Linked DNA regions of Homo sapiens. The protein of the gene in region 1 purifies or fractionates together with the protein of each later gene. This does not show direct contact. Each region holds a gene or a part of one and is shown in the gene's direction. Other genes may lie near its edges.

What was found.
Region 2: the proteins of NUAK2 (region 1) and NAF1 purify together in Homo sapiens (affinity purification with mass spectrometry; 2 studies listed by BioGRID and IntAct, with this or other methods). This does not show direct contact.

What each region holds. Positions count from the first base shown.
Region 1 is NC_000001.11:205,311,746-205,315,245, reverse strand, and holds part of NUAK2 (NUAK family SNF1-like kinase 2), read left to right. Parts: intron 1-3,420; coding exon 3,421-3,500. UniProt on the Homo sapiens protein: Stress-activated kinase involved in tolerance to glucose starvation. Induces cell-cell detachment by increasing F-actin conversion to G-actin. Expression is induced by CD95 or TNF-alpha, via NF-kappa-B.
Region 2 is NC_000004.12:163,128,891-163,132,390, reverse strand, and holds part of NAF1 (H/ACA ribonucleoprotein complex non-core subunit NAF1), read left to right. Parts: intron 1-3,042; coding exon 3,043-3,494; 3' UTR 3,495-3,500. UniProt on the Homo sapiens protein: RNA-binding protein required for the maturation of box H/ACA snoRNPs complex and ribosome biogenesis.

The sequences.
Region 1 (3,500 bases):
GTGGTCTAGCCCCACCAGGGTGGTGATGCATGGCTCTTTTTGTCTGCCACCTGCTTGGAGACCGATAGAGGCCTGATGACATAACTTGTTTGCTTCCTGGAAAGTGCCAGCCGTACTGTGATCTCCTGGGACCTAATATGGATACCTGGTGGGTCCCTAACCTACCCCCTGATGCCAGAGCACAAACTTGCAGGAGGCTGGAACTGTTCAATGAGGATTAACAATTCTGATGTAGAATCATGGGCTTCTGGAGTTGAAAGAGATGGATCTTGGGGTTCAACTTGTGCACTCGCCCCCATGCAGAGACTCCTTCCAGCCCCTCTAACACCCCTTTCTCCCTTTTTTGGAACCTCATTTATTTTAGGCCTTGTCATCTTTAGAGTTCTGCCCCCTAAGCCTATGATGATTTATTTCACTATTGTATCTGCGAGTACACAACTGTACATCCAAGATGTGCCTATGCGTACATCTTAAGTTCTGAAATAGTTTTGATTATCTAGATATGGGATTCATGTTTATATATGATTGATCGTTTTGCTCTTTATGGACCTTTATCTCTGAAGAGCTCATAGAACTTTATCCATTGTTTTATTTTAAACAAAGAATTTTAGAGAGAAAATAACTTGTCCATAAAATCTCCCCCTCAGGGAGAGGAAAAAGGGTATGGAGGCGAGAGGTGTGTGGGAATGATACTCCAAGTTGAATCCAGGAGAGAGAGGTACCTCCTAGTTAAAGGAGGATTCAGGCCCTCTCTACATCTACCCCTGGCCCCCTGCCCAGTTCCAAGCCCAGGTTTTTATTTTTGTTTTTGTTTTTTGCTTAGCTCACTAGGGAGAGATGGATGGTTTGGAGCAGAAGGGGGATAGCCCCATCGCATCCCCTGCAGCTGCAGCATGGGCCTCTTCAGCATCTTGGGGAGGAGGCTCCATGGTGACCATCCCTCCCGCCTGCCATTGTCCTCCCTGCCCTGCTCAGGGAGGGCCCGAGAGCAGGGCCTCCCCTCTTTCAAAGATGAAGCTCTGGGGGAGGAGTGGGATGGAGGGCACGCCATCCCTGGCCCGTTGCCGGGGTGACCGGGCCAGGGCATTGTGAGCAGCTCCTCTTACGGGATTAGGGCTGTTCCGCATTCTTGTCCGATGGAGAACACAGGCCGGCAGGGCCTGCTGCCCCTGCAAGCCAGAAACCATTGTCTGCCTCCAGAGCCCTGTGAAAGGGTGGATTAGAGGCTCCTCCCCTCGAGCAGGGGTTTCCTTTTTTCTCTCTCCCTTTGAATCTTGAGGGGACGCAAACCCTCCTGGGAAATTGAACGAGGAGCTGTTTACCACAGTCTAGGTCTTCAGATTTCTCACAACTTGCCTACCCCCATAAGAGGAAGTCTCGTATTTACCATTTGCGTCCTTGGGCAGCACTTGCCAGGAACTGGCCGGCCCTGTGACACCCCACCCCCACCCAGCTCCCACCTAGCCCTGCAGCCTCTGAGGGCCCCGTGGCATCTGTACGGCTAATTTCATAGACTCAGAGCAGGAAAGCCCCTCAGATCTCTTAGTTCAACCTGTTTGTTTCACAGAAAAAAAAAAAACCCGAGGCTCTGAGAAGGGGTGGGGACTGGCCCAGGGGGACAGTGACAGACTCCCTAGGCAGTGTCTCTCCCCAGCTCCGCGCCTCAGGCCCTGCTCCCTGGTATTTTCTGGGATTTTGTCCAGGAGCTGCTGCTGAGGAGGGTGGAGCAGAGAGGGACCGAGACCCTCGGTGGCTCAGAGCTTTGCTAGCTGCACCTCGGCAGCCCTCTTTCCATTTCTTCCTGCCTCTCTCCACCTTTCCTGAGCCCACCACACATACTGCCTGGAGGGCTTCGTCCTCATGTGGTGTTTTTCATCTTGCCGGGCTAAGATAGCAAGCCCTGAGATAGCAAGCAACTGTTGAGTTGTTTGTTGTCAGGGGAGGAAGGTTTCTCATCTGGACTGAATAGACTGGTGTTTGGGGGCTTTTTTTTTTTTTCTTCATAATTTTGGGACCAATTTTTAAAAACATGGTAAAACATACATAATATAAAAGTTACCATTTTAAGTGTACCAGTAGCGTTAAATTTAACGTTGTTGTAAACCAATCTCCAGAATTCTTTTCATCTTACAAAACCGAAACACTATGCACATTAAACAACACCTCCCCATTTCCCCTCCCCCAGTCCCTGGTAACCACCGTTCTGTTAATACTTTCTGTCCCTATGAATTTGCCTATTCCAGGTACCTCATTTAAGTGGGATCATACAATATTGATCCTTGCGTGACTGGCTTATTTCACTTAGCATAATGTTTTCAAGGATCATCCATGTTATAGCATGTGTCAGAATTTCATTCCTTTTTATGGTTGAATAATATTCTATTCCATCCTATGGACGTACCACATGTAATTTATTCCTACATTTCTTTTCTTTATTTTTTTATAGACAGGGTCTCACTCTGTTGCCCAGGCTGGAGTCCAGTGGTGCAATCATGGCTCACTGCAACTTCTGCCTACTGGGCTCAAGCAATCCTCCCACCTCAGCACGCGCCTATAGCTGGGACTACAGGCATGTGCCACCACACCTGGCTAGATTTTGAATTTTTTGTACAGACAGGGTTTCACCATGTTGCTCAGGCTGGTTGCGAACTCCTGGCCTCAAGGTGATCCTCCTGACTTGGCTTCCCAAAGTGCTTGGATTACAGGCTTGAGCTACCGCACCCAGACCTATCCCTACTTTTCTTGATGGACATTTGGGTTGTTTCCACTTTGTGGCTAGGGACTGATTGCTTATAGCAAGTTACAGAACTGGAGCAGAAAAAGTACCAAACTCAGAATCAGATGGCCAGTAGTCGAATCCACTTGCACCAGTTAGTGACCGTATGACTGAGCACATCATCTAACCTCTCTGGGTCCCAGTTTCTTCACCTGTAAAGGGTATTGATGATGCTTTTTGTGCCCACCTCCCAAGGTTGTTGTGAGGGTCAGTTCATTTACTAATGCAACAAGGAGTTATTCTGTGCCTACTGTGCTCAGCATCAAGAATTCAGTGGTGAGCAAAACTGGCTGGTCCTTGTCCTCATGGTGCAGATTGGCACGTTTGCTTTATAATTCATAACGCATCAGCCTTGCAAATGCAGGTTTTTACCTTCCTTGTCTATCTGTAGACTATGAATAAGGAGGTGACTTGTCGATATTCCTTCCTGCTGCATGGACCATGTGCACTCAGCTCAGGTGAGATCTTTTTCTAGAGAAAGTGCTCTCCAGCCTCTCTGCCACCTACACTGGTGAAGGATGGAGTGGCTTCTATGGGTGTACTCTGTGGCCTTTATAGCAGCTACAGGCAAACCACCAGGACCAGGGCCCCCAGAGTGTCCTCTGCCAAACCTTTCTCCTCACTCTCATGCCTTCTCTTCCCAGGTGGCCATCAAGTCAATCCGGAAGGACAAAATCAAAGATGAGCAAGATCTGATGCACATACGGAGGGAGATTGAGATCAT
Region 2 (3,500 bases), on another chromosome or scaffold:
CTCTTCATTACAGAGTAACATTTCATGGCATGAATTTACCAGATTACCTAACCATTCATCCATTGAAGGACATCTAGGTTGTTTCCATTTTGGGGTTATTAGGAATAAAGCAGCTATAAATATTTATATACAGGTTTTTTGTGAAAAGAGGTTTTCATTTTTCTGGAATAAATGCCCAAGAGTATAATTGCTTGGTTGTATAATAGTTGCATTACATGTTTAGTTTCCTAAGAAACTACCATACTGTTCTTCAGCATGGCTATACCATTTTACATTTTTATCAGCGATGTATGAGTGACAATTTCTTTGCATTTTCTCCAGCATTTGGTGTTATCACTGTTTTTAATTTTGGCCATTCTGCTAGGTTTGTAGTGCTAATATAATTGTGGTTTTAATTTGCATTTTCCTAATGGCTAATGGCATTGAACATCTTTCCATGTGTTCATTTACTATCGGTATCTTCAGTGATATGTCAGTTCATTATCTTTTGCCAACTTTTAAATTGTATTGCTGGATTTTTACTGTCGAGTTACGAGAATTTAAAAATGTATATTTTAGATACTAGCTTTCTGTCAAATATTTGGTTCGTTCATGATTTGTTCTAGTCTGTAGTCTTTTCCTTCTTTTAAGATGGCCTTTTGCAATACTAAAGTTTTTAGTTTTGAGGAAAACTAATTTATCAATTTTGTTTATGGAATCTGAGAACTTCCTGCTTAGCTTTAGATCCTAATGATTTTCTTCTATTTTTTCCCTAAAAGTTTTGTAGTCTTCTGTTTTAAATTGTACACTTGTGATTCATTTTGAGTTAAATTTTGTATAGAATGTGAGGTTAGTCTTAAAATTGCGTGGAGTGATAACTCCTACTTTATTTCTCTTTTTCAAAATTATAATCGGTATTCTAGGTCCTTTACCTTTCAGTATAAATTTTAGAATCTTCTCTACATCAACAAATGTCTTGCTGAGGTTTTTTTGTTTTTGTTTTTGTTTTTGTCTGTTTTTTGAGATATTCTTGCTCTGTTGCCCAGGCTAGAATGCAGTGGTACAATCATAGCTCACTGTAACCTTGAACTTCTGAGCTTTTTTCTTTCATTCTCCTGATAGTATCTTTCGTGGAGCAGAAATTGTTAAGTTTAATGAAATTCAGCATATTGATTATTTCTTTCATGGGTCATGCCTTTGATGTCCTATCTAAGAAGTCATTATCTAAAAAGTCATTATTGGCCGAGCGCAGTGGCCCAATGCCTGTAATCCCAGCACTTTGGGAGGCCGAGGCAGGCAGATCAGGAAGTCAGGAGTTCAAGACCAGCCTGGTCAACATGGTGAAACCCCATCTCTACTAAAAATACAAAAATTAGCTGGGCATGGTGGCGCATTCCTACTTGGGAGGCTGAGGCAGGAGAATTGCGTCAGCTGGGACCCGGGCAGCGGAGGTTGCAGTGAGCTGAGATCGTGCCACTGCACTCCAGCCAGGGCTACAGAGCGAGACTCCGTCTCTAAAAAAAGAGTCATTATCAACCCAAGGTTGTCTAAATTTTCTTCTATGTTATCTTTTAGGAATTTTGTAATTCTGCATTTTACATTGAGGTCTGTGGTCCATTTTGAATTAATTCTTGTGAACGGTGTAAGGTTATTGTCTAGATTTATTCTTTTTGCATGTGGATGTCCAGGTGTTCCAGCCCCATTTGTTGAAAACACTACTTATGCTCTGTTGTATTGCTTTTGCTCCTTCGTTAAATATCCGTTTATTATGTTTATGTGGGTCTATTTTTGTATGTTTATGTGGGTCTATTTTTGTACCTTCTATTTTGTCCCATTGATTTATTTGTGTGTCCTTTCACCAGTACCACACTGCTGTGATTACTTAAACTTTATAATACGTCTTGAAGTTGGGTAGTTTCCGTCCTCCAGCTTTGTTCTTCTCCTTCAATATTGTTCCATTGAGTTTTTAATTTTGGTTATTGTAATGTTCAGTTCTAAAATTGCAATTTGTTCTTTATTTTATATCTTCTTTTTTTCCTAAAACTTTGTAATTTTAATTTTTTAGAATGTTCATAATATCTTGTTGAAGCATTTTTATGACTGCTTTAATACCTTTCATAATTCTAACATCTTTGTGACACCCTTGCTTGATTTATTTTTTTCATTGAATTTGAAGTCTTCCTGGTTCTTTTTGTGATGAGCAATTTTCTTTTATTGCAACCTGGGTATATTGAGTATTATATTACAAGACCATGGATCTTATGTAAATCTTCTGATTTAGCTGGGTTTGTTGTGATTGTTTCTTTGTCTTTTTAAAAATGCTACTCTGGCAGCGAAAGGAACAGGGTAGATTGAAGTCTAGGTATTCCTCTTAGCCTCTGTTGACACCTTTGGCCAAGGGGTGCCTTGTTACTGCTGGATGAGGGTAGAAGTTCTGACATCCCACGAGGTCTTATGCCTGGTAGGGACAGGAGTACTTTGTCACTCCTCCCCATATGGTATGCACTGACACCAGTGGAGGATGGCCTTGTTATCACTGGTTGGGGACAAAAATCCTAACTCTACTCCATCTTCTCTGACATTGCCCCAGTGTAAAAGAGGGAAGAACACTGGGTTGCCGCCAGTGGAGGTGGAAGTTCAGGTTCCCCATGTGATGTTCATTGTTTGCAGGGAGGCTTGTTACTGGCACCCTGTTCAGCCTGTTCCTGATGCTACTGTGGTGGAAGGGTTGGAGTACCTCATTACTGCCTGTCAAGGATAGAAGTCTAGGATCTGTACTCAGCCTTTGAGAGTGTGTAGGGATGGTGCCACATTTTCTTCTGTGGTGTTTGGCTAGAGTAGAATGGTTATCATCTAAGTGTTTTCTGACTTGCTGGGTTCTCTTTCTTTGGCATTAAGTTTTGTCTTTTCAGTTCATTTCAAATTTACCATTTTATGTCTTACACTTTTTTAACTGCCACAAGATATACTGGATAATAAAAATCATAATTGAAATTTCAAACAATGCTTTTTGATATATTAAACTTATTTTCCTTTTTATGTTTTCCCTCCCCTCACTCAAAGGTGAAGATTTTACTGAAGTACATCAGAATTGGAATGCTCATAGCTCTGCTTCAGAGCATGCAAAAGGATATCGTAACAGAGAATTCACACGAGGATTTTCCAGGGCCAGATACCCTCGATCTTGCCATGGCAGGCCTCCACCTCAGCATTTCTATAACTCAGAACATATGGTATCTCAGGAGACTTCAGGATTTCCTTCTCAGAGACAAAATAATCCCATTATGCCACAATACCCCTTTCCTCTTCCAGTGTTTGACATGCATAATTTTCCCCTCCGCCCTCCACCCCCACCACCACCCCCACCTGTAAACATGGGTTGGGCTACACCAAACATGGCTGCTCATCCATTACTTAACTTACCATACTCCCTACCCCCACCCCCTCCCCCTCCACCACTGCCTCCTCCACCCTCTTCTGGAGATAGTAATTCTCATTTTGGACCTTACTATTAGGTGACT